Linked DNA regions of Homo sapiens: region 2 is linked to region 1. The links come from fine-mapping of genetic effects on gene expression. A gene starts in region 1. The other region holds a variant in brackets. All regions are shown on one strand. Distances are between the middles of the regions. Region 1 holds the start of RELN (reelin). Region 2 overlaps RELN (reelin).

What was found.
Region 2: its variant is fine-mapped to the expression of RELN in fibroblasts (GTEx, PIP 0.99).

Annotation. Positions count from the first base shown.
Region 1 is chr7:103,981,712-103,997,782 of GRCh38, forward strand. RELN (reelin) reads right to left here and starts at 7,947. Exons shown (of 65, transcript NM_005045.4): 1 at 7,420-7,947. The coding sequence starts at 7,645. RefSeq lists a cis regulatory region at 14,264-14,859.
Region 2 is chr7:103,708,765-103,724,835 of GRCh38, forward strand. RELN (reelin) reads right to left here. Exons shown (of 65, transcript NM_005045.4): 8 at 14,376-14,427. Among named protein-coding and RNA genes, the nearest start is that of SLC26A5, 270 kb to the left of the region's middle. The variant G/A (reference allele first, on the strand shown) is at 9,102.

The sequences.
Region 1 (16,071 bases):
CTCTAAAGTTTTGTTCCACCATCATTGGCATGTGGCCATTATCCTCAAGGTCACAAGATGGTTGTATCATCTCCGAGCTAGAATAGGCAAGGTTAGGGCAAAAAGTGCGTGCCTGCTGAGTCTTTTATAAAATATTCTTTATCAGTTTTATCAAGAGTCTTCCCAAAGACTCTGACTGGGTGCAGTGGCTCATGCCTGTTATCCTAGCATTTTGGGAGGCCAAGGCAGGTGGACCATCTGAGGTCAACAGTTCAAGACCAGCCTGGCCAACACGGCAAAACCCTGTCTCTAGTAAAAACACAAAAATTACCTGGTCTAGTGGTGTGCACCTGTAGTCCCAGCTATTCAGAAGGCTGCGGCACGAGAATCGCCTGAACCCAGGAGGTGGAGGTTACAGTGAGCCGAAAAGGTGTCACTGCACTCCAGCCTGGGCGACACTGAGACTCTGCCTCAATAATAATAATAAAAAGAACCTTCCCAAAGACCCTAATCAACAGATTTTCACTTCATATCGCTGAATTATACCGCCAATAAATGGCAGAGCAAGATATGAACACGGGTCTATCTTCAGCATCCAGTTAAAAAATACTCACCTCCATGGCTCCCTTGCAGCTCCATGTAATTCAGCGATATGAAGAAATTCTATGGGAGGACCACAGCAATTCAGAGCTTGATACAAGAATTATGACCGACCTAAATAGTTGATAATAAATGTACTGATTTGTTTTCATATTACTATCAGTAAGAAGAGAAAAAAGGTGTAGAGATGGCAATGGGGGAAACCTGAAGGGAAGAAAGTGAAAGAATTTAAAAAGAAAAAGAACAAAGTGGTGAAGCAGAAAGGAGAAAGGAAGAGGAGAGGGAAAGCAAGGACCATGGCATGGAGTCAAAGGAAGCAAAGGAGGAAAGACAAAGATAAAATTTAGAGAGAGGAAGAGAAGATGAGATACAGTGGGAAGGAGATGGGAAAGGCAGAGAGAGAGGACTAAGGTGACCTTAGTCCTTATGGTCTACTGTCACTCCTTTTCAGGTCACTTGGTTTGTGGGCACCAGTGGACATCAATAATCGGTGCTATCTATAACATGTCACCTTTCCTATCATGTAAGAGTATTTTAATCAATAATTTTCTTTTTAAACTGGGTCTCACTTCGTTGCTCAGGCTGGTCTTGAAATCCTGGGCTCAAGTGATCCTCCTGTCTCAGTCTCCAAAGTAGCTAGGATCACAAGCATATGCCACTGTGCCTAGCTATAATAAAATTTTATTTTGTTTTCAACATAAAGTTTTATTTTGTTAAGGAAAGCTAATTCAGCATTAAAGGATAACCTGCATTTTAAACATTTACTTTGAAAACTCAGAACGCTTGTAACTATTTCTTAGTGGGATTCAATGCTATCTAATTATCTTAGCTTTGTTTTTTATTTTGAGTGATTTAGGGCTGCCTTATACCACAAATCAACATTTCTACATTTGTACTGATCCCCCTGCCACACACACATCCTCAAATACATTTGCTATAATTGGTTCTTAGAGAGGATAGAATAAAAAAGAAAAAAATAGGTATAGTTTTAGAGAAGCACACATTTTAAAAATAATTGGCTAACCTATAGGCACAGCATTCAACCCTTCAGAAGCTCTGCCTTCAATGAGATGGGCATGGCAGGTGACTGTGGTGAAAATTACTTTCTGAGCCACATAACTGACACCAAAGTGAGATCATGTCATTTCATGCGGAATGTCCTAAGAGCCAATAATTTTTTAAAGCTACACAATTCCTGCGTTTGAACAGTCATTATGAGATATTCATATTTGAAAATTCAATTCGAGTATCTGAAATAGGGCTTTTAAAACGCTTTTGCTTAAAGTTGATGAGACTGAAATGCTATAGAGTTCAGTTATTTTTAAAATGACTCTAAAATCAGGTAAAGAGGGTGGATTAATCACCCCAATGTTTTTGAAATGAAAATACTTAGATAAGTCAATTTGCCTTTTAACGTGTATTAAGTCATTACTCAGGCATAGCCTAAACCACCTCTCTCTGTCCACAGTGAACCTGCCCATTCCAACCTAATGCACTCCACCTTCCTTTTTTTCCGGAGTGTAGTGCTATCCAGTTTTTCTATTTCTATGTGACACAAAGAACTTCATATTTCTGTGTGTGTGTGTGTGTGTGTGTGTGTGTGTGTATGTCTTTTAAAATGTAAATGTTCAAAAAGTACTGGTCACTCAATTTATTTATGCTTTTCAAATGTAAAGGTTATTTGAAATAAAGGGGTCATTGCATCAGCAACTATTTATGAAGATTAAAGATATAACATAAGTTTCAAACTAGCACTTGAAGTGATCAGAAAAACAATTATGGCTTAATATGCAACCAATCTTAAATAATTGATGGAGTAAGGCTTCTAGTTTATTCTATAAAGTTGACCAATTCCCAGGAGGTAAAAAAAAAAAAAAATCAAAGACAGATTTTTAGATATTTTCTTTTGAATAAAACTAATCCATAAAAATTTGAAAGTCAAAAATGCTGACTTTAAAATCTTGGTAAAATATCACTCTTTTTAAAGATGGAAAGTCAAATTTACTGGAATAAAACAGTTCTGTAAAAACTATATTCATATTATTACAACGATACAACATTACCATTTTATTAACATTTTCAATGCAAATAAAACTAATAGTTTAAAACAAAGATTCACACAAATTGGAAGGAAATATAATTAAATAACTCCTAGTAATGTAGGAATGAATGAAGTAGGAATTTCTGCCAAAATGAAATATTTTGAACTATAATTGTAAAGACTTGATTTTAGTTTAAAATTGGAATTGAAACTCACAGTGAATATAAATTACAGGAAGCAAGATTTATGATTTAAGAAACAATCTCAACCACATCAGTAAAATATGTATGAAATAAATTGTAGAGAGTAAGATAAATATGTAACAAATAGAGCAAAATGCTCTAAAATGCCCAATTTTCATAGTCCTATATAAGCAGGACGCAGCTTCAGTTCACTTATAAATTGCATTTGACAAATGATTTTGAAAGTTTAAATACACTGATTCCAGAATCAGACATATGAAGGATAAATAACCGATCACCTGATCAGCAATGCAGTTACTTTAGTAATGGCAAATTACTTTATTTCAAATAATAAAATCATTCCTTTGAAAGGAATTAAATCTGGAATATATTTCCAAAAATTACGTCTGACATAAATATCATCTGGTATTTGAAAGGTCATTAAATTGCACTTCCTTTGAACAAGAATTTTTAAATAGCAACCAGTTAATTTCAGAACACGTGTGCCTTTAACAGTAATACTGGAAATTGTCAAAATAAAGTGCCCTCAATACTCTATCCTGATTATACCTTTCTTTTAAGTAAATGTTTAGTTTTAGGAATAGAACATTGATTTTCCTGTCTGTCTCACAGTATAATTTTTTTTTAAAGTGGGAGTAGATATACAGCATGAAAAAATTACCAATAGTGATGCCGGACTTACAAAATACAGTAAAATCCCCCTTTTAAAACATCATGCCACATCACCAATTCAATTCTACTCAAGGCCAAATTTTTTTCTCTCAGTTGATATTTTAGAGCATACTTCTCATTGTTAATGGAACACTTCCCCCATCTTATGCTACCATAGTAACAGAAATTCTAGTCCATTCAGAAATTTAGGTACATTGTCTCACCAAAGCTCAAGTATTTTGGGTAGACTCATTTACTTAACGCTTGTCTTTCATGCACAATGTCTTCTTCTAATGGCTGACCTCTCCTTTTTGATGGGGACTGAATAAAGCCAACCTTGTGAGGGGCAGTTCCTTACTGACATGATTTCAGGGGCATCCAAGTCTTTCTATCCCCATATCTATTATCTGGCTGTTCAGTGATGCTAAACTTACTTTAAGCAAAGAGGGGAAAGACATCTTTCTACAATTACAATAAAAAATGTGGGAAAGTTTAACACTGACAAGTCACATTCACCATAAATTGATTGGGGGCAAGGCGAGGAGTGGCAAACAAAATGGATGGTAGATACCTGATGGCTGGGGGTGAGGAAAAGGAACGACCATGGGTGAGGAAAGGTGCAGACTTCAATCCAACCATCACACTTTTCACAATACTGCCTTTGTCCCTAGGAGAAGGTGTGCTGATTACGGGGCATGGCTGGAAAACAGAAATGGCTACCTGACTAAACCATGTAGGTTCTTGTTTCCTATTTCCCCATCATTTGCAACTTTCTACCACACAAAACAAAACAAAACAAAAAATTCCAGGTTTGGTGCCCGAAACGCACATTGCGGAAACTGACCATGTCTTAGGATTTGTGCAAAAAAAAAGGAAATTCTAGGAAAAAAAAAATGTTCTGACCCTGAGACCTTTCTAATTCAACATGATGTATAGAGACCTCCTTTCGCTGAGCTTCTACATTGTGGTATACTCATGGTTCATTGTGACTAATAATGCCCTTTCAAAAGAGTCAGAGATAACATAATTTAAAAGATATATGAAGATGAGAAAGAGATACCAAATGACATTTAATTGAGAGATGAGAACACACCAGATGTAACCATGCACTATTTATAGAGTTGCCAGTACTGAAAATAGATGGATATACTACTTAATGTAAAAATCTGTGACAATTCTGTTAGACTCGAAAGCTCCAGATTTTTTAGTACTATATATTTTTTATTTTTGTTAAAGATATTCCATAGATATATTTAAATACGACACATACAGGGACCTATAATTGTGAACCACTTTTATTCTAGACTGGCAATTGCTGCCCCATTTTACATTCTGAGCTCTGCCACACACCCCAGTGTCAGAGGGCAGCTGACTGATCTACAGAAATGTTCTATGTTAGGTGCTATTGTGCACACCACCTCTATCTCAATGCATTCTTTTAGGTAAAAAAAAAAAAAAAAAAAAAAAGTCACAACTATCAGCTCTACACCTAAACATGGTTCATTCAAATGGTGACTTCAATGTAAATCATAAATGTGACTGATTTTTTCTGATATAACTGTTACACTTTAAAGATCCAGAAGGTTAGAAATAAAGTCTCAAGCTAACATTTTACACATTTCTTGTAAGTTTAAGAAGACTTCTTGGGCAAAAGACCTTTCATTTTGGTCACATATCAAAATGGGCCAACCACAAAAGTACATGAGATTAAGTTTTCCTATTGGCAGTTCAATTCTAACAGAAGCTGTGTGTGTGTGTGTGTGTGTGTGTGTGTGTGTGTGTGTGTGTCTGAATTTTTTAAATTAATTTTCAAAAGCCTAAAAGGAAAAGAGACATACATAAGCATCACTTCATTTTTAAACATGTATTCTACCTGTAGAACATTTTACAAAAAAAAAAAAAAAAACTCTTACTTTAAGGCCTATAGCTACAGCTAGTTCCAAAATCTAAATGTTTAATAAAATAGATAACAGAAATTTAAAATCTGACACAATTCTCAAAGCTTATAATAATTTGACCTTTCATAACTTACATAATACAATTTCTCTACCTTTTCTGGTGGTGGAAAAGAGGTGGAAATTGAGATTCTCCTCCGCAATGTCCAACTTGAAGTATTTACACTTTATTTCTACTCTATGTTATCCATTCCTTTTCAGACTTAGATATGTGATTATGGTGAGTCTTAAGGTGACTTGCATTTGCTATTCAAGGGTGCAAGGGAGCAAAACCAAAGGGTGTATGATATTTTGGTGTTTTTAGTTAAGTTTTCAATATCGAGACCTTCCAAAGGATGTGGAAAACAGAAAAAATAATAATAAAGCTTTGTATCATCACATGGTCTTCCATCATAACCTGACAGTCACGCCTTTGAGACCAGCCTCACTCACTTACCCACCGTTCTCACTGAGAGATCATACCGGGCAAGAACTTTTGCTAAGAGTCGCACGGAGCAGCAGGCTGTCAATCAGGCTTTGGGTTAGGTCTGGTTGCCATCACAGTAGCTGCTCCTTCCACTTAAAGATTCTCATTATCTCAGAAAAGCACTAGATTGTTCTTGGGAAGAGGGCGTAGTAAGCACTTTTATCTAAAAAGGGACTAGTTACAGAACATTAATTTTCCAAAATTATTTCTAAAATTCCACCAAATTAAACTTCTGCTTTACAGACAAGGCTGCCACCATGCCACAAGGAAGTTGTAAAAGCACTGTTTAAAACCTCTAGGAGACGTTTATTTAGGCTAAATATTTTATAATAGATATCAAGGTTTTTTTAAAAACAGAAAAATCTTAAGGATTCTTACAATTTTTAAATGCTTGTCTATCTTAAGTGCTAGCACCCCGTAGATTATCTCCCGCCATGCCAATGATTGTTAGCCTATTAGAGATAGAAACTATTAACAGGAGCCTACTGGACAATGGTTTCTATTTGGTTGGGTATAAATATTTTGGGGTTGAAATTCTAATTAAATAGTGCCTGTCGCTGCTTAAAAGCTCTATAGGCATGAAATGTTCAGAAGTCCCAGAAGAAATACAGAAAAGAGACATTTTTTATTTTTCCACATACTCGATGTACTAGCTTAAAATACATGTACTACATAATATTATATTTCTTGGAGCTAAATTTTATTTCTTCTGTAATGTTTATTTTTGATGCAGGGCTGCATAATGATTCCATTTTTAAGATACCTCTAAATTATAAGGGATTCCAGCCTCTACCTGGAAATTAAAGCTGTGCAGATAAAATACAAAGTCATTAATAAACATCACAAAGATAATTCTAACAAGAAGCACCATGTAAAAGTAAGGCAGGAATCAGAAAAATCATCAATTACTGACATATTAAATCACACTTTCAAAAGAATAGGGAGCTGGAAGCAGCCGCTCCCTTTCAGGAGGGCTGTATGACACTGAATGAAATGCCAGGGACTCCTGGCTGGTGAGCAGCGGGAACTTTGCGGTCGAGCGGCGCGGGGCAGCCACAGACCTGGGCGCTTCAATCTGTCACCAGCCTGCCCGCAAAGCCCAGCGACAGCCCCCAACGCCCCCCCGGGGACCCATCTGGGGGGACCGGGAGCAGGACAAAGGTCTGAAATCCAAGTCCTAGGAGTAAAGAAACAAAATGCGCAGGTTCAATTTAAAGTGCCTGCGGTAAGTACGGGGAGTGAGGGGGAAAGACACCGGCCTCCAAGAATTCTCAGGCGTTTAGCACAAGCACCAGCTCATTACCAGGAGATGCGTTCGGGGAGTGGGGACATGGAGAATGAATCCCAACTTGTGACTCCATTCTCCACTAACTTTATTCTCGCTCCCTGGACCAAGCGCATCGCTGGGGCCAGGGTTGTCATGGTTCTTGTTTCCAAGGCCCCTTGGAAGAAGGAAAGGGATGAGAAAGGTGCGCTGGCGGGCGCACCCGGCGGCGGCGAGCGCGGAGGTGCTGCGGTACCTACCATGGTATTCTTGTCCCGGAACGTAGTAGGTGGGGTTGCCCGCAATATGCAGGGAAATGAGCACCTCGCCCTGCTCCCCATCCCCTTCCAGCTCCCCGTGGTGGGTGCACAGGAAAAAGAAGGGCGAAAAGCGGGGGTAATAGCCAGCCGCCGCGCGCGCCCTCAGCGTCGCCCCCAGCAACAGCGCTAGGAGGAAAGTCTGCCGGGCCCAGCCACTGCGCTCCATGCCGCCGCCGCCGCCGCCGCCGCCGCGCGCCCTACGCGCCGCTCGCTCATTCAGTTTTGGAGACGCCGGGACGGAGGAGCCACGCGGAGAGAAGGCGAGAAGAAGGCGGACGGGAGCGGAACGGGCTCGGGAGCGGGCCTGGGAGCGGGCCCCCGCCGAGAAGTTCCGCGGGAGACGGCGGCTCCCAAAGTTACTTTGGGCCGCGGGAGCGCGGGACCGGGGCTGCGGGCGCCGAGAGCGCGTCGTCTGCCGCCTCCGTGCGCCGCCGCCGCCTCTGCGCGACGCCCCTCGGCCAGGCCTGGGAAAGCGCCCGCCCCGCTCCACACCTTCTTAAAGCCCCGGGCGCCGCGTCCCCCCCGCCGCCGCCACACGTGTCCCGGCCGCTCCCCCGCCCCCGCGCGCCGCCCCGCCCGCCCCCCGCCCTCTCGGGCTGGCTCGGCGGCACCTCGCGCGGCGAGGGGCGCACGCGTCCCCGGAGTCCCCGGCCAGCGCCCGGTTCGCACCCGGGAGGACAGGGAGGGGCGCCCGCCGGGGAGCGGGACGGGGACGCTGTCGAGGACCGCTGAGCCCGCGACTCTTCTGCGAGGGACGTCAAAGCCCCGCAGAGGGCACCTCCCGTCCAGCTGTCTGAAGGGGAAGGCCAGCCCCTTTGGCCGTCAGTGTGCCCTGTTTTTCCTGGGAGGATGCGTGAGGGAAGGAGAGGGGCGGCAGGGACGGCCGCTGGCGCCGGTTTCTTTGTCTGAGCCGGCTGCGTCCCGCGCCCCTCGGGGCTCGCAGTCTGCCAGTCCGGGCGGCCCGCACTCGTTCTGGGAATCCGCCCGAGGCCGCGAACCGCTAGGGGCCCTCGCGCTCCCTTCCCACCCAGGCCCCCTGTCCCTCCCGCCGCGGCCGCCCGGCCCCTCGCGGCAGCGACAGAGCCTCATCTGTAGAGGATTTTAAAATGAGATTAAGCGAAAGTGGAATTGGCAGACTCGAGTGGTGCCTGGAAATGGTGATTTGTGCTGCTCGGTTGTGGGGAATTGTAAGGCAGGAAGGGCTGGCGGAGCTAAGATCCGACAGGCTCTCTTCGCCGGACTGTTCTGTTATTCATTGCTTCTGGGCTCTTCAGGCAGAGATGGGTGTTGTAATTTTTTAAATCAGTGTTTATTTCCTTTAAATGTCGGTTATGACCAATGGCCCTGAAATCGGGGGAGGGAAAAACGTTCAGGGGAGATGCTGGCAGCGGTGATTGAAGCGGGTGGTAATGAGCGGCTGCACATGAACTGCAGGGAAGTGAAATAATCCATAAGCACGTTTTTAACCGAGGACGGCTGGCAGGAGCCCTGCGGCATCCGGAGATGGGGGAGCGGGGTTGCCAGGTTTTAATGCCTCTCCCCACCCACCCTTGGCTTGCCACCAAGCCAGATAAACCCGCACGTACAGAAATGAGTAGATTATAAAATTGGAAGGGATAGTGCCTTTGCCTGCATTTGTGGGGCGAGGGGCGGTGAAAATCAGGGTCCAAGGGGAGACCTCTGTAATCACTTCGTTGCAAAAGGAAGAAATTGTTTTTCTTCCTCTTACTGAGACCGAATGACAGGTAGAAAGGGCCCATTTCTAGCTGGCTTCTTGTTTCCCTTACTTCAAAATCCCCAGAGGCTTAACTGCCATATAAATAATATACAGTGTATACATATATGTATGTGCATATATATATATATGATGTGGTAACAATTGCTACACTGTAGCTCTGCGGGGTGCAGGCTGTGGGGCTAGACGTACTTTAGCTTTTTAATCCTAACACCAACTGGAGAGGCAAAAAATATCCCTATTTCACAAGGGAGGAGGCACTCAGAAATGTTGATAACTTGCCCAAAGTCAGTGACAAAGGCTGGATGCAGGGCAGACTGGCTGGCCTCAGAGGCTCTTGTCCTGCACTGCCCTGCCACAGTCGACAGCCCTAGCTGGAGCAGGTGGTGTTGCCCCAAACAGAATTAGGAGATACTCGCCCACAGCTAACAAGGCTGTTACTGCCTTCCTGTCCAGTCATGTGAATATAGCCAAAGACAAAATTAATCACTTGTAGAAAGAATCCAAAACTATTTAATGTTTTTGGCTTACACTTTTAAAATGTTTAGTTACTATGCACTGAGCACCGTCCTAAGTACTATACATACTAACTCCCTTATTCCTCATAACAATACTGTGGGAAAAGTACCATTGATAGCTTCATTTTACTATGATGAAACAGCACAGGGAGGTTAAGTAACTTGTCCAAGGTCACACAGCTAGTGAGTGCTGTGACTTGAACCCAGGCAGTCTGATTTTGACACACTAACCACTGCAAATCGCCTCTAAAGAATGCATGTTGGTGTTGTTAGAGGGATGGGGGAATAATTATTCTTCATCCAGTGTCAGAATACCTCATTTAATCCTTATATTAGCCTGCAAAGTAGGTATAATTATCTTCATTTTTAAAGAGAAGAAAGTTGAGATTCATAGAAGTTAAAGGAGCTTGGGATCAAGTCTGGCCATGCTTGATGCCAAGGTCGCTGCTTAAATAAACTGTCTTTAGTAAGCGCTGACACTTGGTCCAGGACATGATTGGAATTTAATTCATATAAGGTCCTCAATTCCCAGGAAGTCCCCTTCTTTCCATTGTGTAGTGCACTCTCAGAGAAATATTCTTTCTCGTATCTCTCGACATGGCTTTCTTAACATTCAATTTATGTGACCAAGTTTATTTTTCAATCTTCCCCTTTATTGTGCTTCCTTAATTTTTACCACTTTGCTTTGCTATTACATTTGAATAACTTTTATACTGTTAGCCATGAAGCAAGCTCATATTTCTGGCTACAGCCCTGCAGTTGTTCAGTAACAGACACAAAGACTGTTTTTAAATAATGTCCTGAGTGGTGTTGAGCTGGTCAAGAGGGGAGTAAAAGTTGGTACACTCCAGTCTGCAGTCCTTAGAACTAACATGAATACCTTGTAGAGGCTCAAGTTCATATTTGTTTCATCTCTGACACTTTTTTTGATTAGGCCAGTTCAACTAGTCATTAAAAACTTTTAAATAACCTTTAGAAAATCAGAAAAATACATAAATCATATATAAAATCCATTGAACCGAGAGTAGCATCTTCTTAGTGAGCAACTTACTTGAAATCACGCAATAAGGTGGAAACCCAGGTTAGATAGCAAAACTTCCTGTTTCCCAATTCGTGTGCTAACCCTTACACCTCGTTTCTATTTAGTGAGCCATAATAAGTATCTCCAAGAATATTGGGTCTGCAAAATCCAAAAACCTTCCGAACTAATAGAAAAATAGAGAAGTGCTTTTCCAGAAAAAATGGTTTACATCAAAAACATCTGCAAAAAATAAAAGGTGATGTCAGGTGAAAATGAATAGGCTTGTGGGAAAGGGAGTTTAAAATGGAATGAGATTTATTTTTAATTAAAAGAGTTTTGAAATAGTAATTAGTCTACCAAAAGAATTAAACTAAGTATTCTTAGAAGATAAATCCACTTCTTCTTGATAAGTGGAAATTATTGCCCAGTATTTGAATAATCATAACACGATGGGAATTAAATTCATATATATATATATATTTGCTATGTGTGTGTATATATATATATATATATATCTGCTATATCTCTCTATATATACATGTATATATATACATATATCAGATACATAGCTTTTAAATTATTGGGAGGTGATTCATCCATATGAAATACAAAGAAGACATTAAATTATATTTTAAGGTTGCAAGAATTCACTCATCTGCCTTCCATTGATATTTTTTGAGATGAAGCATTAAACATTTTGGTATATGTGGGAAAGTGAGTCACTATTCTTATTTACCATGTAAAAATCAAACAAAGTTTATAAAATCAAAAAATATGTAAATATAAATATGAAGAGGGTGAACAAACTGAAATCAGTTGACTTATTAGACTCTAAAATGGTAATAAAAGGCCACATGAGAGCAAACCCAATAGCAGCTAATAAACTTATAAAATCTATTACTCATAAGACATGGTACTGTATGATAAAATTGAGGCTCCTAAGCAAAAAACAAAAATCAAAAAAAAAAACACACAAAAATAGACCCTAAAGATCAGTAAGCCTTTTGCAAATGAAATTGCACTGAGAAAGGTGGGATATTAGGGAGTTGGCTCTGTTACGTACGTCCTGCCGGAACATGTTACTTATTGCCACCCCAGATTGAAATACCATGATGAGATAAACTATGGGACAACACAAAGTCATTATATTGTAAGATTTCTGAAACAGAATCTGATTCCTCAACACTAAAAATCCCTTTTTTTAAAGTTTCTCCACTTCCTGGGATTTTCCCTGCCCCTGCTTCTCTCTGGAATGCCCTTCCTGTTTCCTGTGGCCTAACCACACATCTTCCACCCTCCTCTCCCTCACCTCACTTCTTACTTGGCTATAGCAACTCATGCTCCAAGTCTTCTCTCACACATTTTTGCATCTGAGAGATCTTTCCTGATCCCTCATCCTAAATTATGTCCTCTAGACCAGCACTATCCGATATAGTGTCCTAGTCCCCAGGTAGCTATTTAAATTCAAATCAAATTAAATTTAAAAATAAGTTCTTCAGTCACATTAACCACATTTCCAGTATCCAATAGCTAAGGGTGGCTAGTAATGGGATAATCTGTAAGGCTGCACTGTCTGTACTGGACAGTAAGTGCAGACTTACAGATTATCCCATTACTGCAGAAAGTCCTATTAGACAGCACTGTTCTACATTGAAAATGTGAATGAATGCCCAGTCACCAACACATTCATTCAATCAGTATTTATCAGACACCTCCTATGTGCCAAACTGCTGGATGCAGTGGACTCAGTGAATAAAGCTAATACAGTGCCCACCCGTTTGGCATCTACAATCTAGTGCTGGGGACAGACAGTAAACTCATACAATAAACAAGATTATTTCTGACACTGGTAAATGCTATGAAGAAATAAAACCAGATGATGTGGTAGAGAGTGTCTAGGGCAGGGAGGCTACTGTAGATTGGAGAGTCAGGGAAAGCTTCTCTGAAAGAGTGTAATTGGAGCTAACACTTCATTAATACGGAAGAGTCCATCATGTTAACATGTGGGGGAAAGAGCAGTTCAGCTGGAGAGATCAGATAATATAAAGGCCCTGAAGCAGGGCTATGCTTGAGATGTCCAAGGCTTAGGAAAGATAGCAAGAAAAGGGAAGAGTGAGGCTGGGCACAGTGGCTCATGCCTGTAATCCCAGCACTTTGGGAGGCTGAGGCAGGAGGATCACTTGAGGCCAGGAGTCTGAGGCTGGCCTGAGAAACATAGCGAGACCCTATTTCTACAAAAGATTTTAAAATTAGCCAGGCATGGGGGTGCATGCTTGTAGTCCCAGCTACTTGGGAGGCTGAAGTAGGAGGATTGCCTGAGCCCAGGAGTTCAAGGTTGCAGTGAACTATGATTGCATCACTGTATTCCAGCCTGGGCAACAGAGTGAGACCCTGTCTCTAAAAAATCACCATCGTCATAAAGTAAGTAAAATGAAAGAAAAGGAAAGAGTGGTATGGGTACGAGATGAGGTCAGAGAAGCAGGCAGAGACTAGATCACATTAATGTGCTGGGGAGACTTGGGTCAGGAAGTAACATGATCTGAATGAATAATTAAAGGAAAGAGTTGAAGAATGCCAAAATAAGTTGAAGAAACATTTTCTAATACTTTTTCTCCAGGGTTTAAATAATATCCAACACAATATTTTAATGTTATTGTCTACAGCACAGTATTACAGTAAAGCAAGTACATTCACTAGGCACTAGCATGGACAGTGCTACAGTGAAGATTTTCTTTTCTTTTTTCTTATTCCTGAAAACAATGGTGAAGCATGGAAGGGATTTTAAGCAGAGACATACCATGGTCCTATTTGTACGTTTGGAAGATCAAGGGGAGAGTGGATTGGAGAGCCATGAAAAGTAGATTCAGGGAGAGAATTAGGATGTAGAGCAAGTATCTCAGGTGAGAGGTGATGGTCTTCAAAGGAGATGGAGAGAAGAGAGTAGAACTGAGACGTATTGAGGAGCCAGAACTACAGGATTGAGTAACAGATAGAGTGACTGACTGGGCATAGGGATAAAGGGAGAGAGATGTGTTGAAGAGGATGCACAACTTTCAGGCTTTCGCAGCTTGGTAATTGTTGCTGTTAGATAAACTGTTAGATAAACTATTAGATAAAAAGTATTTTTTATTAAGTAAACTTTTTAATGAAGTATAGTAATAGGCACAAAACCATGAACAAATAATAAGTGTAGTGTGCAATGCAGTGTCAAAAATGGAACACCTCATGTAAGCAGTGTCCAAAGAATATAAACAGAAGTCTCCATGACCACTTTGATTGAGCAATCATATTCCTCAAGGCATGGAGAAAGTTTCAAGGAGAAACATAACATGTCTTCAGGATGGTTATTTTTGCCTGTTTCCAAACTTTATGTAAGTGGAATCATACAATATATGTGATTTTATATCTGGTTTCTTTGGCTCAATATCATGGTTATAAGAATTATTCCAGTTGCTATAGGTTGCAAAAATTTGTTCATTTGTATCTTGTAGAGTATATGGGGGGGAAAATCACAATTTTCTTATTTGTTAGTGGAAATTTTGGCTATTTTCAGTTTAGGGGAACTATGAATATGCAGTTAATATATTCTTGCACGTGTCTTTTGGTGAACATGTGTGTACATTTCAGTTAAGAGAGGGAGTGTTGGATCATGGTGGAAACTCCTTTTAACACATTGATGAATTAGTGAGAAATAAAGATAAATCCTTAGAGGTCAAAAATGAAGTGACAGCAGGAATCCAGAGATAAAGAATGGAGTATGTAATCCACCCAGGACTCTGAGACATCTGCCCACTTCAGTAACACTTGAATTTCCACTGTGACGGACATGTGGGGTTGGGAACGGAGATAAAGCTTAGGGCCTGCTCAAGGTGGGAAGAATGATAGGATAGTGCTACTCAAAGTGTGGTTTGCAGATCAGTCTTCAAACTATCTGTTGCCAGTACACGTTGAGATAGGTACAGAAATGGAGAGTGTTTAAAAACTTTCATAGTTATTGTATAAGCAGTAGTATCCAAGCAGCATTCCATGTCCCTAGTAATTCATATTGACCTTAGTTTTACAAAAGTATCTGTCTGTGATGGATTATGAGTTAGTATGCAAAGTACTGTCCCGGAAAATCCATACATAAAGCTATTACCCATCCCCAAATAGCTCGGCCCTCAATGAAAGGTGAACTAGAAAAAAATCAGAAATTCTCTCACTAAAATTTGAAACCACAATCTGGCTCTCAGGAGGTTGTGACACAAATTCACATTTCTGTTTGATTTTAAAAACCTCAAGCTAATAATTAATTTTAAAGCGGTTCTGGGTTGAAAGTGTTCCCAGGCACCTGGCAAAACCAAATTCAAATCACCTCTAGCATGGACCCTAAAAACAAAACAAAAACAATTTCTTTAAGTCAGGCTTCAAAGAACTACAACAGATGAAGATTCACAGAACGTTGTGTTTACAATCAAAAATCACTAATACTGTGAGAAAGCAGAACACAGTGGGTCAGTAGAAACAGGAAGTAACCACAATCAGACTCACAAAGACTTCAGATGTTGGAATAACTCTGTTATTTAAGATATGTATATTTAATACATTTAGAAAAGTAAAATAATATTCCAAAAATAGAACTAAAAATAAGAGACCATCAAAAATGACCAGCCATTCTCAAAGTAAGAAATATAATACCTATAATTTAAAACTCCAAGGAGAGAAGTATGTGCTTCTGACAGTATAGTGTATTAGATATTCTGGAAGGCCTTCTTCCTGTGAAACAAGTAGATCCAGCATAAAACATAATCTTCTTGTGTTATCAGGCTTATAGAAAGAAACGGAAATCACTAAAAGACCAGGAAGTTTTATGGCTCAAGGACATCAATTAAAAAAGAAAAGACCAGAAAATTTTTTAAAGGGACCAACTATAAGGGAAAGCCAGAGTAGTATGTGCAGTGCATAATCCAGAGTAGTGAGTATGTGCAGTGCATAAGCCAGAGTAGTGAGTATGTGCAGTGCATACATATGAATGTGGGTTCCCAATTACATGGAAATGCAATATATGGCAGCTGTCACTGCAAATCAAAACAAGAAAAAGTTGACTTTCCAATAAATGTGATGAGACAATTGGTTTTTCATAGGAAAAATAATCAAATTGGACCTCCACTTCCCATGAGGGCCATAGGCTGAAATACAGGGCCTTTCAGTTTCATGAGTCTCTTCTAAGGCCTTGAGAGAAGCCTTGGGTTCACATGTTTTTTGTTTGTTTGTTTGTTGTTTGTTTTTGAGACGGAGTCTCACTCTGTCATCCAGGCTGGAGTGCAGTGGTGTGATCT
Region 2 (16,071 bases), 270 kb before region 1:
TCCTTCTGCTGGGTTAACTCTCTTACACGATTCGGGCCTCTGTTTAATGGTCACGCCCCTCAGAGGCCTTACCCTGGCCACCTCTAATAAAATGCTAACCCCGTCACTCGTTGACCTCCGATTTAATTTTCTCATTGCATTTATTACTCCCTGACATGTCCATTTATTTGACAGTTGCCTCCTCTCACCAGAATGTTGGCCCCTCCAGAGCAAAGATTTTGTTTCACAAATTCTAAGTGCCTTGAGAGCTGCTTCACACAGAAGAGGAGCTCAATGAACACTTGAATGAATGAAGGCAATAAAGCCCTTCCGAGACTCATCAGTTAAACTCCAGGAAGAGTGTCTTTTGGAAATACAATAATACTATTATTATTATTAGCTTTTCTGTAGTATCTATTTTCAGCAGGATAGGGAGATGGGGTGATTTATAGCCCCTGTCCACTATTATACACACTGATGCTCTTCTAGGAAGAGCCAGAAGGACAGCATCTCAGGGTGGCACCAAGTATTATCTGGGTAACAACATCACATGGTTCTGCCAATGCTACATTTCTGTTCCTCTGTTTAATATCTTTCCCTGGTGACAAAATAAGCTACAAGTATAAATTACAATTGGTTAAAGATATGGCGACTGCTTTAATATTTCTTGTAAGGGCTGCCTTAACTGAAACAGAAAACATAATAACCATGTTTTTAGCCAAACTAAATTCCTGCTTAACTCATGGTTCATTGTTGTTACCCAGTTCTAGGACTTAGGACCACAGTGGTAAGACATTTAAGAGATCACAAAGATGAACATGCTTACTTGTGAAGGGCCCAGGCAGCCTCTACTACTACCCATGGTTATGTGGGGAGTTCAACTGGCAGAGAAAGGACTATATGACTTGACTCCCAAATCAGTGCTCTTTTCCCTCTGCCCATTTATACCAACAGTAAAAGTTGTTTGTCAGTATATATGAGTCATAAACTGATGTGCATATGCTGTAGAATATTCCAAATATAAAAAAATAAATCCATGGCTTAAAATATCTACATTAAATAAAAAATATTGTTTTGCATTAATGATTATTTCTTATTGAGAATCAGAACAGTAGCTATAGCAGTATATAGAAATCTCTATGGTCCCTATAAGACAAGGCAAAAGCAATAGAACATCAAATAAAGGGAAGATAAGATGTAATCAGAATTTGAAAGGGAAAGTTGAGGCAACTTGCAGGGGGATAAGAAAGAAGGAAGTGTCAATAAGACAAATGTCAGAATGTGAACGTATATTTATCAATGTAACAAATCTAAGTGTAATGTTCAATTCCAACATGTTTGTCATAGACAGAAGAGGATTTACCATGAAGCTGATGAAGCTTCGGCTTCATGGCCCTCACTTTGGTTAGCACTGTCTAAGGTCCTGGGAGAGGCTCTAGCAATATAGTCTGATGGCCATATTTTATAACACTTGCAGTTGGTTAAGATCCTGTCTCCATTTGGACTACTCCTTCATCACGTTGCCCCTCATGTCAGGAGGTGTCAGAGTGGACCTAACTGCTTTTGGGATTCTGCTAAGAAGAAGCTGAGTTGGAAATACATTTATTTTGGGTTAGTGTGATACAGCTACGTAGTTTACTTTCCATTTTGTAGTCTAGTCATTCTCAATATAAAAACAGCTTCCAGGAACTCCTACACCCACAGTGCTGATGCATCCAGCATCATGACTAAAAGATAATGATGATACACTATTTAATGAGTGATGTCAATTCAGAGATCAGCTAAGATTAGTCACTATACAAGGGAAGTTGAAATGTCCTCAAATATAAATAAGAGAGAGGTTTTCCAATTCTATAGTGATTCTAAAAATCTAAATGACATGATCAATAAGGAGTTGCAAAGGCAAATATTAAGCATCAACTCTGATCTAACAAGCTAGAGGCAGAATACCCTTTCTATTATTTCCAGAAAATATTACAGAATTGTTGTCACAGGAAAGGTGATTTGAGAGTACATGGCCAGCCGGGCGTGGTGGCTCATGCCTGTAATCCCAGCACTTTGGGAGGCTGAGGTTGGTGGATCACGATGTCAAGAAATTGAGACCATCCTGGCCAACATGGTGAAACCCCGTCTCAACTAAAAATAAAAAAATTAGCTGGGTGTGGTGGCCCATGCCTATAGTCCCAGCTACTCAGGAGGCTGAGGCAGGAGAATCGCTTGAACCCAGGAGGCAAAGGTTGCAGTGAGCCGAGAGCACGCCACTGTACTCCAGCCTGGCAACAGAGCGAGACTCCGTCTCAAAAAAAAATTTTTTTAAATAAATAAATAAATAGAAAGAGTACACAGCCAAAAAGATATAAGGAAAAAAGTACTATAGAACATTTCAGGGAGTTAACAAAAATGTTGTATTTCTTGATTTTGTGATGTTTGTGGTACAGTCAATTTTGAACAATTTGTAATTTGTTTTTATTTCTTTTTGCATTCTAAATAAATTTTCACATTTGTACCTAATTTGGAATGTGTAACTTTGTATGTTTTTTCCTTAGAGAGAGACCCTAACCCTCACCCAAGTGGTATAAGCTTCAAAGGTGGACCCACACAACTCAGACCCACCTCTGTACAGAGCTTGCACTGCACTACATTCCTACATTTCAAAAATGTCTTAAATCACAGGTCCCAGAGCAAGGGAATCCAGAATACAAAATTCATTTTCCACTTTGCTTAGCACGGCACAATCAAATGTATTTAATGACAGGACAAGAATAAAGAGAGAATAAGACTTTGAAATTTTTGAAATTCTTTTCTTCTCTTAAGGCAGGTTTGACTCAATTAAAATATTTATATATGGAAATGAATCACAGTACAACTAGATTAGAATCGATGAAATGACTTTTAAGCTATATTTACACACACAAAAAAGCTATTTTTTTAAAGGCAGGGTATTGCTCTGTTGCCCAGGCTGGAGTGCAGTGGTATGATCACAGCTCACTGCAGGCTCAACCTCCTGGGCTCAAGGAATCCTCTCGCCTCAGCCTCCCAAGTAGCTGGGATTGCAGGCACCCGCCACCAAACCTGGCTAATTTTTTTGTATTTTTTGTAGAGACAGGGTTTCACCATGTTGCCCAGGATCGTCTCAAACTCCTGGGCTCAAGTGATCCACCTGCCTTGGCCTCTCAAAATGCTGGGATTACAGGTGTGAGCCACCACAGCTGACCTGCTATTCATTTTTGACTGTGTTGTCAAAATGAAGCCTACATTGACCCTCATAGACCTCATTAAACCTCAGGGACTCAAGCCAGAGAGAACCAGAAACTTCCAAGGCTTGCTAACTGGAATGTTTCTGTGCTATGCCGGCCTGGAGAATCCTAAAGAGCTTTTAGACTTTATAATCTCAAGAATACACAAGCACACGAACCTGCAGCAATTATACATTAATCAAATGCAATCCATATTAAGTATATCAAAATTCTGCTCATTGTGCAGTAGCCTATTTACCGTAATATACATGTAATGCATACAGAGCCAGGAAGTTTCTGAAATTCACAAATAAACTTTGTCTGTTCTTTCCATCCCTCTTGAGTAGTTGGCATAACAAACAGTATAAAGAATAGCGTGATTTGATATAAAATCAAAGCCACTTAAAAATACAAATATTAGTAATCCTACTGAAAATTAAAGAGTTACTTCCTCCCTTGGAATAACAGCCATATAGGTCCATAATCCCTTGAGGTTAGATGAATTCTATAATTCAAATAACTTAATTAACTTATAGATTTCCAAAAGGTAATATGGTGCATATGCCATGCCTAGAGCAGCACTCTATAATCCAACACATTAATACTTCTGCAGTGAAATGCATGATAATTCACATAAGTAACAGAAATAATGATCATAAATAGCTTCAAATCCTTTCAACTCAGGTCTTGCTGCCAAATGAATTCAGCTCATGTCAAACTTTGCCACCACATACATTTTATAAAAACTGGCTTGTGATATCTCCATGTTTTTTGTAATATGAAATTACAGATTAGGGATTGTGAGTCTGTATCTTCAAGAATTTCATCTATTTTGTTTTACTTTTATACAAGGATCAATCAATTGGTGTTTAGTCTCTCAAGTCCTGGGTAGTTTTGGGTAGTTTTTTTTTTATTTGGTTATATCATTCCCCATCAATCCCAGGACTTTTCAAAGTAAATCACAGTAGAATGCAATAGAAGAAGCTACTGTTATCTTGGGGATTGGTAGTGGTTGCTGGGAGCAGCCTCTTTCCCCAAAGCTCTGCCTTAAAAATGAGCTGCCTTTTCAAATGCAGCACAGGGCCACAGAAGGAGAGAATTGATCTCACAGAATTTATAGATGGGGAAAATCACTGCCAGAAATCACGCCTCTAGATAGCATAGTGGGACCCATAAATACTGAAGGCTTGAGGAGTGTCTGGACAGAACCTTATTGAGGATTCCTGCAGCGCGAGTGCTGCCACTGCCATTACTCAAAACTCAGACCTCAGAGACGAGCACAGCTCTAGGAGCTGCATGTAAACAACAGCATTTGGTATAGAAAGATCATAAAGTTATAGAATGGATGCATTCTGGCTACTCAGAACTCCCTGCTACAAACTAGAGCAACTCTTAGCAGGATCAGCCCATTCTTTCATCTTTTCTAGATAGATTAATGGAGAACAGGACCATTAACTTGAGGTTGCAGTGAGTGGAAAGAGAGATAGAGATGAATGGACAAATTTTAGGGAGCTTTTAAAAAGCTAGAAGCTGTTACTCTCAGGGGATATTACATGTTACTCTAGGCTAGGGCATTCAGGAGCATTCAAGAAACAGGCTTGCCTCATTCTACACTGAAATGTGAAAAATGTGATGAGCAACATGAAGATATTGGTATAATAAGCAGTTCTGGCATTTATCCTTTTTTTTTTTTTTTGAAGGTAAGAGTGAATTTTGAGGTCAGTATTATTCACTAGGGAGAAAATACTCTTACTCTACCTCCCCAAAATTAAGAAACACAGTAAAATCTTCTTTGCTACTTTGCAATTCTTTTTCAAATAATTCTGTCTCAGATAAGACCATTATTATCCAGATTACCAATAGTTTGATAGTTCTATGAACAGCACTGTAGAAAAATGATTATATCATACTTAGATTTTTATTTCCTTCTTTACCACATGCCAGAAAATCCCTAAAAGTATTAGCTCTCTTGACCCACGGCATCAAAATGATCTACTGTTAAGTAGAGCAACATCTTGATGACATGGCAAGTCTAGGAATACTAACTCATGAACAGTATCTAAAATATGACTCCCAGTCTTAGGCATATAATGCTGTAATTTCCAGGATGGCTGGTTTAATATGTTTTTTGTTTTGTTTTCATGCTGTTTTATTCCTCTCCTAGTACAAAAACCTATGCTATATAACATTTTATGTATCTGAGCATTTTATTTAATAACATGACTACCTATATAAATTTGTTCCATTAATGTTTAAATTTTATAAAAGTATAATTGGTTATTTTCTAGTAGCTAGCTTCTTGCTTGATAATATTCAAAGCAACTTGTTTTTATTACTCTTATTACCTTACTGTACATCATATATCCACAGGGTACTTTGGAATACAGAGTTCAAGACAAGAGGGAAAATCTACTGGGAAGATGAGAATTTGGTCCTAAGTGTGCTATTTTACCAATTCTCTGATCACGGGTAAAATAAATGCATGAGGAATGGCTACATAGGGAATGCGGTTGAGTCAACGGTCTGCCTGGTTGGTATGCTCTCCGCTGCTGTCCCTGACGTCTGACAGTGTGTGCACATCCCACCATGCAGAGCAGCTTCTGGCTCTCATGAAATACAGGCTTGATTTGCCTCGCCTATGCCTGCACATAGAGGCAGCTCATGCTTTGTCGAAGTTCAGGGGCCGTAGCCAAAACAGCAGCAGTTTGATTCAAGGGTAAGAAGCAGAGCAGGAAAAAATGGTTACTGTATCGGATAATGCTTTGTGGCAGCCCAGGAGGGAAGTGTCCTGGGGCTTCTCAGTCCCAAGTGACAGGGATGGCAATTGTGACTGAAAGGAGCCCACAGATATTACTTTAATTAAGAACAGTTCCATTCTGCATGAACAGAAATCCTCTAATTACTCTTGGATCTGTCAAGAACTGTTCTTGACAGAGCAAACAAATTTAATTTTGGTAAAATATGGTCACCAAAGTTAAGATAATTCATTATTTTATGAATAGAAATTGTAAATTGAGAGAAATGAATATGTCCAAAGTTTTTGGTCAGCCCAAATTATCAATTAAACAATTATTTGGATAGGGAAGTCTAGACTTTATGTCTATACCTCTGTTTTGCCCACCAAAAAATACCCATGGGGGAATTTAGCGTTTATTAACGAGAAAACATATTTCAAGGACAATGCTGTATGGGGGAACATAATATGCAAGCAAAATTTTCATTCTAAGCATCTACTAAAAATGGATATTAAGGATTAAGAGAGGTCAAATAAAGTAGAAAAATAAAATCAATAAAAATCTTCAAAAATATTCTGTACTTGAACTAAAAACATGCTTCCTTTATACTTGAAATACTTTTTTTCATAATATATAGAAAAAGAACCAGGTTCTAAAAGCAACTGTCTTCCACTTTCTGTTTTATATTTATGTTTAAACTGAGGCTACTAGTAATAATCTCTGTTTTGACTATCAGACTTACAAACCTTTCTTTCTGGCTAAATGTGACAGTGCGTGATTTATTGTACTTAATATTTTGTCCCTCAGTCACTTTCCTGGCTGAATTTCCCAAACCTCATTAGGGGACTTCTTCCAGTTCATGGCAGATGGACAATGACCACAGGATATAAAATGAACAGCTGTCCTCCTCCCTGCTTGTGCCTTTCTCCCTTCCAGTCCTATCCCTCTTCCCTCACTTCCAAAATATTTGTATTTCTTCATTGTCACTGGTACTCCTACCATAATGGAGAGAGGGATCCATTCTCTCCCAATTTATGGAAGGCCAAGCCACATTCCAACCACTTCCAAGTGCCCACCCCCTGCAGGTTTTCTCCCAAGCCCACAGTAGTTTCATTGCCATGTTGCATGAAACACAAGGAAGAGAAATGTGTCTGGCTTTGCCAGGTTCCCTGCCAGGCCGTCCTCCTTTCCCCAGGGCCCATGTAAACTACACCCGAATGCTCATGCCTGGCCCATTTTCTAGGAGGACTAATCCCCATCCCGGGCAGCAAGTGTTAACTGTCTCCCCTCCACCACTCATGGCAATCTGGAGACAGCATTAGTATCATTGTTGCTGTCTGGCTCTGACCTTGGTCCCCAGTTCTTAGCAGGGCTCCTGCATCTTGTTCTTCCTACAGGGTGCCATTCCCGTAACCTTCACAGTGACGCCTGACCCTCTGGTGGTACCATGCCTGCTCTTGTCAATCTCTTTCCCAAATAATGAAGTCCTCCCTCCAGCCCTCCCTCTTTCCTGGACTTTCTAACAAATTAAACTCTCATTCTCCTCTGTAGTCTGCATCTGTTAATCAGCAATGTTTACTGCCATACTTGTTTTCTTCTCCCACGTGGACTCTCTCCCCACCTCCTCCCCTCTATTTGATAATGAACTTCTCAAAGATTGGGGCAGCGTCTTAGGCTTTGCTTTCTCTACAGGGAACGTAAGCACATTATGATACATATAATAAATATTCTAAAGAGCTTAAAGATCTTCTCTTTGACAGATGAGTCCCTGGTTAATTGACAAGAAACTGGAAACTGCAGGCTCAGACTAAATTCTAACAATGCCCATGGATTTCATTTAGCATACTCCCTTGCTTCAGAAGTCAAGAATGCAGATAGTATTCAGCACCAATGTGGAACAGTATGAAATCCCTAACCTAACCTAGGAATTCAATTTAGTTACATTGTTTTTAGTTCTAGGTGTGTGCCAAATTCTGTCTTATATACAGAAAGGGACACTTGTAAGTTCCTTAGCCCTCAAGGAATATTTAAGTTAGAAAAGGTGAAAGTGAATGTGCAGAAATGGTCAGTGTATCTATCAAAGCAGAGTGAAGTACCTGTCATAAAATAAATTCAGAGCAAGTGGGGTTTCAGAGATATCAGTCTGGGGCAACGGGATGAGTTTTCATGGAGGAGTGGTGTTTGAGAGACCATTTGGTCTACATCAATAATGAATTTCTTCTCATCCTGTAGTTCACTGCTGTATTCCTTCTACTAGTACAGTCCCCCCAAAATGTTAATAGCACGAATTTATGAATGAATTACTGACATTTTTCTAAGCCTCATTAGATGAGTGACAAATTGAATATCTCAAAAGAGAAAGGGGATAATACCTGTGTCAAATTGCGCATTTTAATTCATATAAAAATATTTAATTATCAGTTCTAATAATTAAAAAACACTTATAATCAATCTCAACAATCTTTGCCAGAATTTTGGGTTTAGTGGTATTTTACAGGATTTCAGAATATTCTCTTTTATTACTTAAGCTAGGGCTTAAGAATTTGGGGTGAGGTGGATTTGAGATAAATATATATTTATAAATATTATAGATAAATATACATATGTTTTATATATATATATTTCATTTAAACTCATTTAAAAAAATAAACATTCCCTAAAAAGGTCATCTCTGGGATGACAAAGCAGGATACCCTGCATCATAATCAGTTTCACACCTTTACTTACCAAATTTTAGTTAACATAGAGGTATTCCATATATAAAACAAAAAAAAAAATTTGTTTTAATATAGATATTTGAAGATCTGGAAATTAAGTCTTAAATCTTAGTTGAATACATTTATATCCAAGAATCTTACCCTTAAATAAAACACGTATTTAACCTTATAAAACATATGTATTATTTTTGCCATTAAAATTTTCTAATGTTTCATTTATTTTTGTTTTGGGCTTAGGTCACCAAATATTTTGTTAGTCTTATACTTAGAGGTGTCCATGTTTCAGAAGAGGTGTTCACTATTTCATAATAAGTTCCCCAAGGTCTTACTCACCAGGGAGAGTGATTCTGGAAAAAAAAATGAGAATCTAATTTTAAATATATTTCAGTAAGTTCGTGGAGGAAATGAGCAACAATTCATACCAAGATATGGAG[G/A]AATCGATTTCTCCTCCTCTTGAACTACCTGTTCTAAAAGAGTTGAGAGAGAATTTCTCTACTGAATCAAGTTCTGAGTAATTAAGATGTTTATGAATTAGGCTCAAGGGAAAAATCAACTGCTTTTCTTATGCTAAATGAAATAGAATACCTTTTACAAGTGACATTTTATCCTTTACATCTATTAAAGAAAAAATAATACCAGATCTCTTTTCTTTCACAAAGCAATATTCCAATTCAGCTAAGAGTATTTTTAGCTTTTGTAATTTCCAGTTTTTATTTTTCAAAATACACTCGTGTAAACAGAGTGGCTCTCATTCATCTCTGAGACTCCGTAGCATGTACAGTACAGAAGGACAATAATTCAAGCCTAAGAACATCTGTGTATCTTAATAAGTAAATATAAAGCATTTATGATTTAATGACTTCCTTCTGTCTTGAAATGATAAAAACAAAAACAAAGCAGCAAAAAAAAAAAAAAAAAATTAAACACACGTACAAAAATAAAACCCGAATGTTTAGGACATCTGTAAGTAAAACTCAAGAGAAAAGGTACTAATTCTATAAATCATGAACAAATAATAGATTCTAGTTAGCTCAGTAATTACGTACTGATAAACACTTGCATATGTATTTCTGTCTACTTGTTTCACTTAAAGTATAGTTTACTGGTGATTCTGTTTCTTTCTGGGTAATCATTTCCATTGACTGTGGTCCTCAGATCACCTCCCCCAAGCCCCCTCTTGCCATGAAATGTCTGCATCACATCAGTTTAACACTTGGTAACATACTATTATAGATGTCTTTGTAATGGTTACTTGTCACTCAGGGAAGCAATATTTATGAGCATCTATTTATTATGAGTCCCTGGGCTAGTGACTGAGGATACTGTGATGGACAAGATAGATTTGTCTGGCAAGCCAAACTATTTATTCTTCATGGTGTGTTTTTAAATGCTTTACCTTTATTCCTTGTTTGGCTAATGAATCCTATTAATCTGATGTAAGAGGTAAGCTAAATTGAACAAGTATATTACTTGGTAAATTCTTTTAGAGTGACTCAATGCAGATCTCTATCAAGGAAGTGACAAAGAACCCCTAACACAACTACCCAAACAATTTTTCTGAAGAATTAATTTCATTCTATTTCTCTATTGCTCAAGAGAGAAAGAGGTTCTTTTGCAGACCTCTATTAAATAACTAAAGAACAACATTATTTTACTTTTAAAAAGTTAAATTAAATGAGTTTAAAACCTCCATTTAACATTTATCCCTCTATTAAGTAAGTTGAAGCCCTGAGCTGATACAGATTAGTCTTCAGATAGATGCAACTTTATCTGACATTGCTCATAGCTACCAGGCCCAGTTCCTCTGCTCTAGGAGGGCACGCATGTTCCCCTCCAATGTCTTGCCTGTATTCACTCTGCCTCTTCACTTGAAAAACCTTTCCCTGTCCTTTCAAGTGACTTGGGTTGTTGGCAGGGATTCTCCTTCCTAAGAAGCCTTCCTCAAGAACCTCATTAGGCACTGCCACCCTGGGGACATATACACAGACCCACCCTGTTTACAACAATGCCGTTTTCTAGAGATTTCATGCTCTCTATGTACCCAGTGCCTTCTACTACATTGTTAAGTGCTGTAAAAACGTTCTGTTTTCTCACTTATTTTGTTTTCCCAGTTGAAGCCAGCTCAAGCAAATACTGAGCACACAACAAATATTCAGTGAAATTTTGTTAAGACTGTGTGGTAGACACAAGGTACTACCGCCATTTCCTTTGGGTCCTCAACCCTGCCTGAGAAAGTAGAGTTCGGAGGCATCTGTAGGATAACACTTTGCAAGGATGTCATCTCAAATTTTTCTTCCTATCCCAGAGGAAATCTAAAGGAAGTGGGCAAATGCCCCTAAGGCTACTACCATAAATTCCATAAGTTGCGTCTAATGAATCAAGTGAGGATGGTAGCAAATCGATGTCTCAGCACAGAAATGGATAAGAGATCTTTCACTGGAATGGAAAAATGAAAAGTTCTTCTACGAATATTTTAGGACACTTTCCAAGATGATTTAGCTGTGGATAACATGATAAATTTCATCTTGCAGAACTGCATTTTCAGGATTCTTTGACTTTAAAAATCATTGGTTAAGACAGCCTTACATTTATGTATATATATGTATGTGTGTGTATATGTATATATACACAAGTACATAATCTATATACACATGTATAATATATATAATTATATAAACACATCAGATACACACATGTATGTATACATATATAATGTAATATATGTATATATTGTATAAACATTGTGTGTGTGTGTGTGTGTGTGTGTGTGTATTTGAAAGAACTGAGAGAGTATTGCTGCTAAACATTGGCATATGGAATTTATTTGAGACACCCCTTAGTAATTCAAGCAATTTTTGTATGAGGAACTTGGGAGTCTTTTGGATAACATTTGTTATGCAACTGAAAATGTTTACAAGAGCAATATGAAAGTATCAACACAATAATTTCTCCAATTGTGGTTATACATGCCCAATTATGAACATAATTGACCACTTAGGTTATAATAATAGAATTCCCTAGAAAACTGCTTGAATCATTGTGTTATACAGTGAACATTTAACATTTAATATCCTAAAGGACTTCCTAAGGAGTGACACTAAAACTAACTGGACATATTATTATTAGTATAGATTTGGAGAATTCCACAGTACACAAGGAAATGTAAATGTTGAATTGTTAACATATAGTTTTTTATAACATAATCTTAATATAATTTTTGAACTGAGTATAAATAAAATGGCTATTATGGCTGCTATTGGATTGGTTGGATTCATTTTAATTTGCTATTTTGGTATCTGATTACTATGGATACCCACAATTATGGCATTTCTAGAATTTGTGAGTGTTCCTCAGTCTGGCCCTCATATCACCCAAATAAACAGAATGATGTCACACCCTTATACCTCGTAAACATCCATATAAACAAATGATAATGAGATACACAAAACATTTCTGGAAAGTTCTGCCCGCTATACGGTATTCACCACATACCACCACACACCATACAACAGATGGTTTGCTACTACATTGTTTCTTTGCCATTCTAACTCTTCTTGGTTTCCCCCAATTTTTTACTCTCAAAGTGTAGTAAGTAAATTCACCAATGAAGTTTATAAACAATAAATTACAATTTCTTTTACTAAATTGTTCCATTTCATTCCTAAGGATATGTTAAAATTTCACTTCTGGTTCTAAAACTGCCACCTGAAAAGATTTATAAATGTATTTTTAGTTATAAACTTGAGATCTCTTTTTCTCATTTCCTTCCTCCCTCTTTCCTTCCTCCTTCCACCCTTCCTTCATTTTCTCCTTGCCATCTCTCTCTCTCTCTCTCTCTCTTTCCCCAATTCTGTTACTCTTCCAGTCTTCCAGCAGGATTCAAATCCGTGCTTTAAATAATATAAGTTGGCCTGATGGCTACAGTCCTCAGGCTTGTGGGGAGACCAAGGGCTCTTGCTAAGTCCCATGTTTATGTCTAGTCCCGAGACCTTGGCCCTGGTGCTTGCTATGGGTTTTGAGTCTTAGGTAATAAACCCTTCATTCTCTGATTACCTCCTCTTCTTGGTACTTTTTCATCAAGTCTGTTGTAATTGGTACAAATGAAAGGCAAGGAAATAGAGAATCTATGCCATATTAGCAGTATACTATTCACCAAAATAGTAATTTTTCCCTGTAATAAAGGATAATTTAATTGGTGTAGGAGCTCTCCACCCTTGAATAAAGTACAAATAATATTAGAATTAGGAGACATATATTTTAAAATTGATTCTCTTGTGTTCTTTAATTGCTTAAAGACAATATCTGAAACTAATGTTCATCTCTCTAACAAAAAGAACAAGTACTCAGAATACTGATACATTATTAACCATTATTCAGCTTATGTTATATATTAATAGCATAATTAAACACGTTTATTGTGATTAAGAGGCTCTAAGTTGCCTGTCACGCTACAGTTAAAAAAATTTGTTTTTGTAGCACCACAACTCTTTAAAAATAAAACTTTTTTTGATTATAAAAACATTACGTGTTTGCTACAGAACAGGATACACTTGTTAATAAGTCAAAGAAAACTCTTTCATCAAAAAAACCATTATTTTTGTTTTTTCTAACACTTTACTTATGATCACACATGGACTTCTGAACTGTCTGTAAATTGTTGTAGGTAATACTGTCAACTGGAGAAGAAAATAACCCAAAATGTAATCAGGTGACTTCACATAGTACCTCCTACACAGGCTGAAACAAGGCACAGTGATGAAAAAGTGACAAATACATGACTTAAAGAAAACTGTTCTTCAGCACAATCAACCACAGTGGGCTCCTGGCTGTAGAACACTGACTTGCAATTTGGAATAGAAGAATCCTGAGAGAAACAGTCCTTTTGCTAACGGCAGACCTTCTAAGATATGGAAGCGACTGGAGGATGCTGTTCTGAGCATGGCTGGGGGACACCTGCAATTCTCATGCCATAGGAAATGGTCAGGAGGGGGTTTCGCTCTAATGGGACCTAGGCCCCATTAAAAGACAACATGTTTCTTCCCCTAGAACATTTCCTCTGTAAATTTATACAAGTTATTTATAAATACATACCCTTGAAAAATAAAATGGAAGGTAATAGAATAGACAGCAGAACTGCAAACACCTGATCAGAAGGCACCTTATTTTACTGAATGCTTTGGGTAGGAACTTTTAGCTCTAAAACAAAAGCACTTAAAGGAAACACTGCCAGATATGGTCATTGTTTTCATTATCTATGTTTGAATTTAACATAGATTATTTATGCCAAACATAAAGCCTTAATTGGTTTCTTTCGGTTACCAGTAATTATCTTTCTCACTACCAGTTAGTCAGAGCTCAGGAAATGGAACATATTTCAATCTTAATCTGAGCAAAACACAACCAGCAAGGTAATCCTGCTGTAATAGAATAAGCCAATGTATGCAAAATACATATGTAAATCATCTTAAGATTTTTTTGAATTATCTGCAGTATTTTTAATACCATTCACTGCTGGAGAGAAGTGAGAACAGAATGTAACATTTAAAAATATTTATTTCACTTTAAAAATGTTGTAGATTATTTACTGCAAAATTAAGACTTACTATTCTGTAAATCCAAAAGCATCTGGCATTATAATCCTGATTGCACACTATGTTTAAAGCAAACATTTCCAAATTAAATCGTTATAACTGCTAAAAAACACTTACCAATGGAAAATTGGAGGACAGAAGCTGTTGTTGTATTAAGGCCTGTGGTAATCTAAAGAAAAAAGAATACATAAAAATAAGACAAGACAGAGAGGAGAAAGAGGAGAAAGATGCTGGGAGGGGTACGGGGAGGGGAAGAGTTAAAAAAGAGGAGAGAGGAAATCCATTAACAGAAGTTGCATTTATCCAGTTGTTAGTTCATTTTATCAATGTGTCTGAACACAGACCTGTTTCTTCTTCCCCTGTGGGGAATAAAGAAGTGAAATCCTGACTTGGAGACGGATAGCATATTTCTCAATGTCCTTTCACAAACTGTTCTTAGTGGAATCCAGCAGGTTATCTTGTGAAGGCATTTAACAAAGCTCCTCTCCACTCATTCCACCATCTCCCTTCCATCCTACCAGATCAATAGATCGGGGACCCAAAGAGAATGTAGCAAAAGGGCTACCGAACAAAAATTGGGAGATAAACTAAGAACAAATGAGTAGAATAAAATTATTTTGAAAAGGAAATAGAACTACAATAGCTAAAGGTCATAGGCTTTCTTTGTGGAGGGGTGTGATGAAATGGTCTAAAATTGACTGTAATAATGGTTCCATAACTTTGTAAATAAACCAGAAGCCTTGAACTGTACACTTTAAAGAAGGTAGAATCTGTGGATTATTTCTCAATAAAACTGTTACCAAAAAAAATGAAGAAAAGAAATAGAATTATGAACCTAGAAATAGTCTTCTGACAAGTTTCTGCTACTTTTCCTTAGTTTCATGCTTAAGAAGCATGCTTAAGCAAAATTTCCCCCTTCTGAAAGAAGAATGGTGCTTCTTTAATTTTAAAATTTTATTTATTTATCCTTTAGAGCAGTAGCTTTGACCCATACCAGCTCAAATGAGACAAAAATTAAGGTTCTCATTTTGCTGGGTTCTGAAATTCTGTACACTACAATATAGGACATTTCAGTTACTCCACCGTATGCAATAGAAAGTGGATAAGTCTTCACTGTGGCAGAGGCAGTAGGTTGTCTTACTTTTGCTGCTTTTTTTTTTCGTTGTTTTGTTTTTTTTGAGACAGACTCTCTCTCTGTTGCACTTTGCTTCTTATATGTCTTAATAACATCTTTAGACATATCCTTGCACTTTGTTAGCCCTTATATGACAGAGTCCACAATTGCAGAAGGGTCAAGTGCTATACAATTCATGAAGAGCTGTAGGAAATGAGTGAGCAAGCCTCTTGCTCTGTCGGAATTCAGTTGGGATGTGAATATTAAAAGATCAGATACATGTGAATATCAAAATATCTATATCATGACTTGGAGAGGTGACTGAACGTGTGCTTTAAATACACGGCTATAAAGCTACTGCTAGTGCATTAAATGTACTGAAGAGTCTTAGATACTTATCCTGATGGTGTAATAAATGATGCTTGTGTCACCTACTTGATCAAGTTCCACAGCTGTGACCTCTGCTAGCGAACAGCAAGTTGTGTGGAATATCGCCAAATTTCAAATTATGTGTGCTAACTGAGGGTGACCCTAGACTTTGATTGGTTACTGATTCTAATTTTTTTCACCAGGGAAGTTTAGGACTGGTATAATGGTTGACTCTCATTTCTTTACCTTTACCCATTTATTTTATTAGTAAAATATCAGCTACAAGAAAGAACAGGAAAGATGAAGGAAAAAAAAAAAGAAGCACTGCCT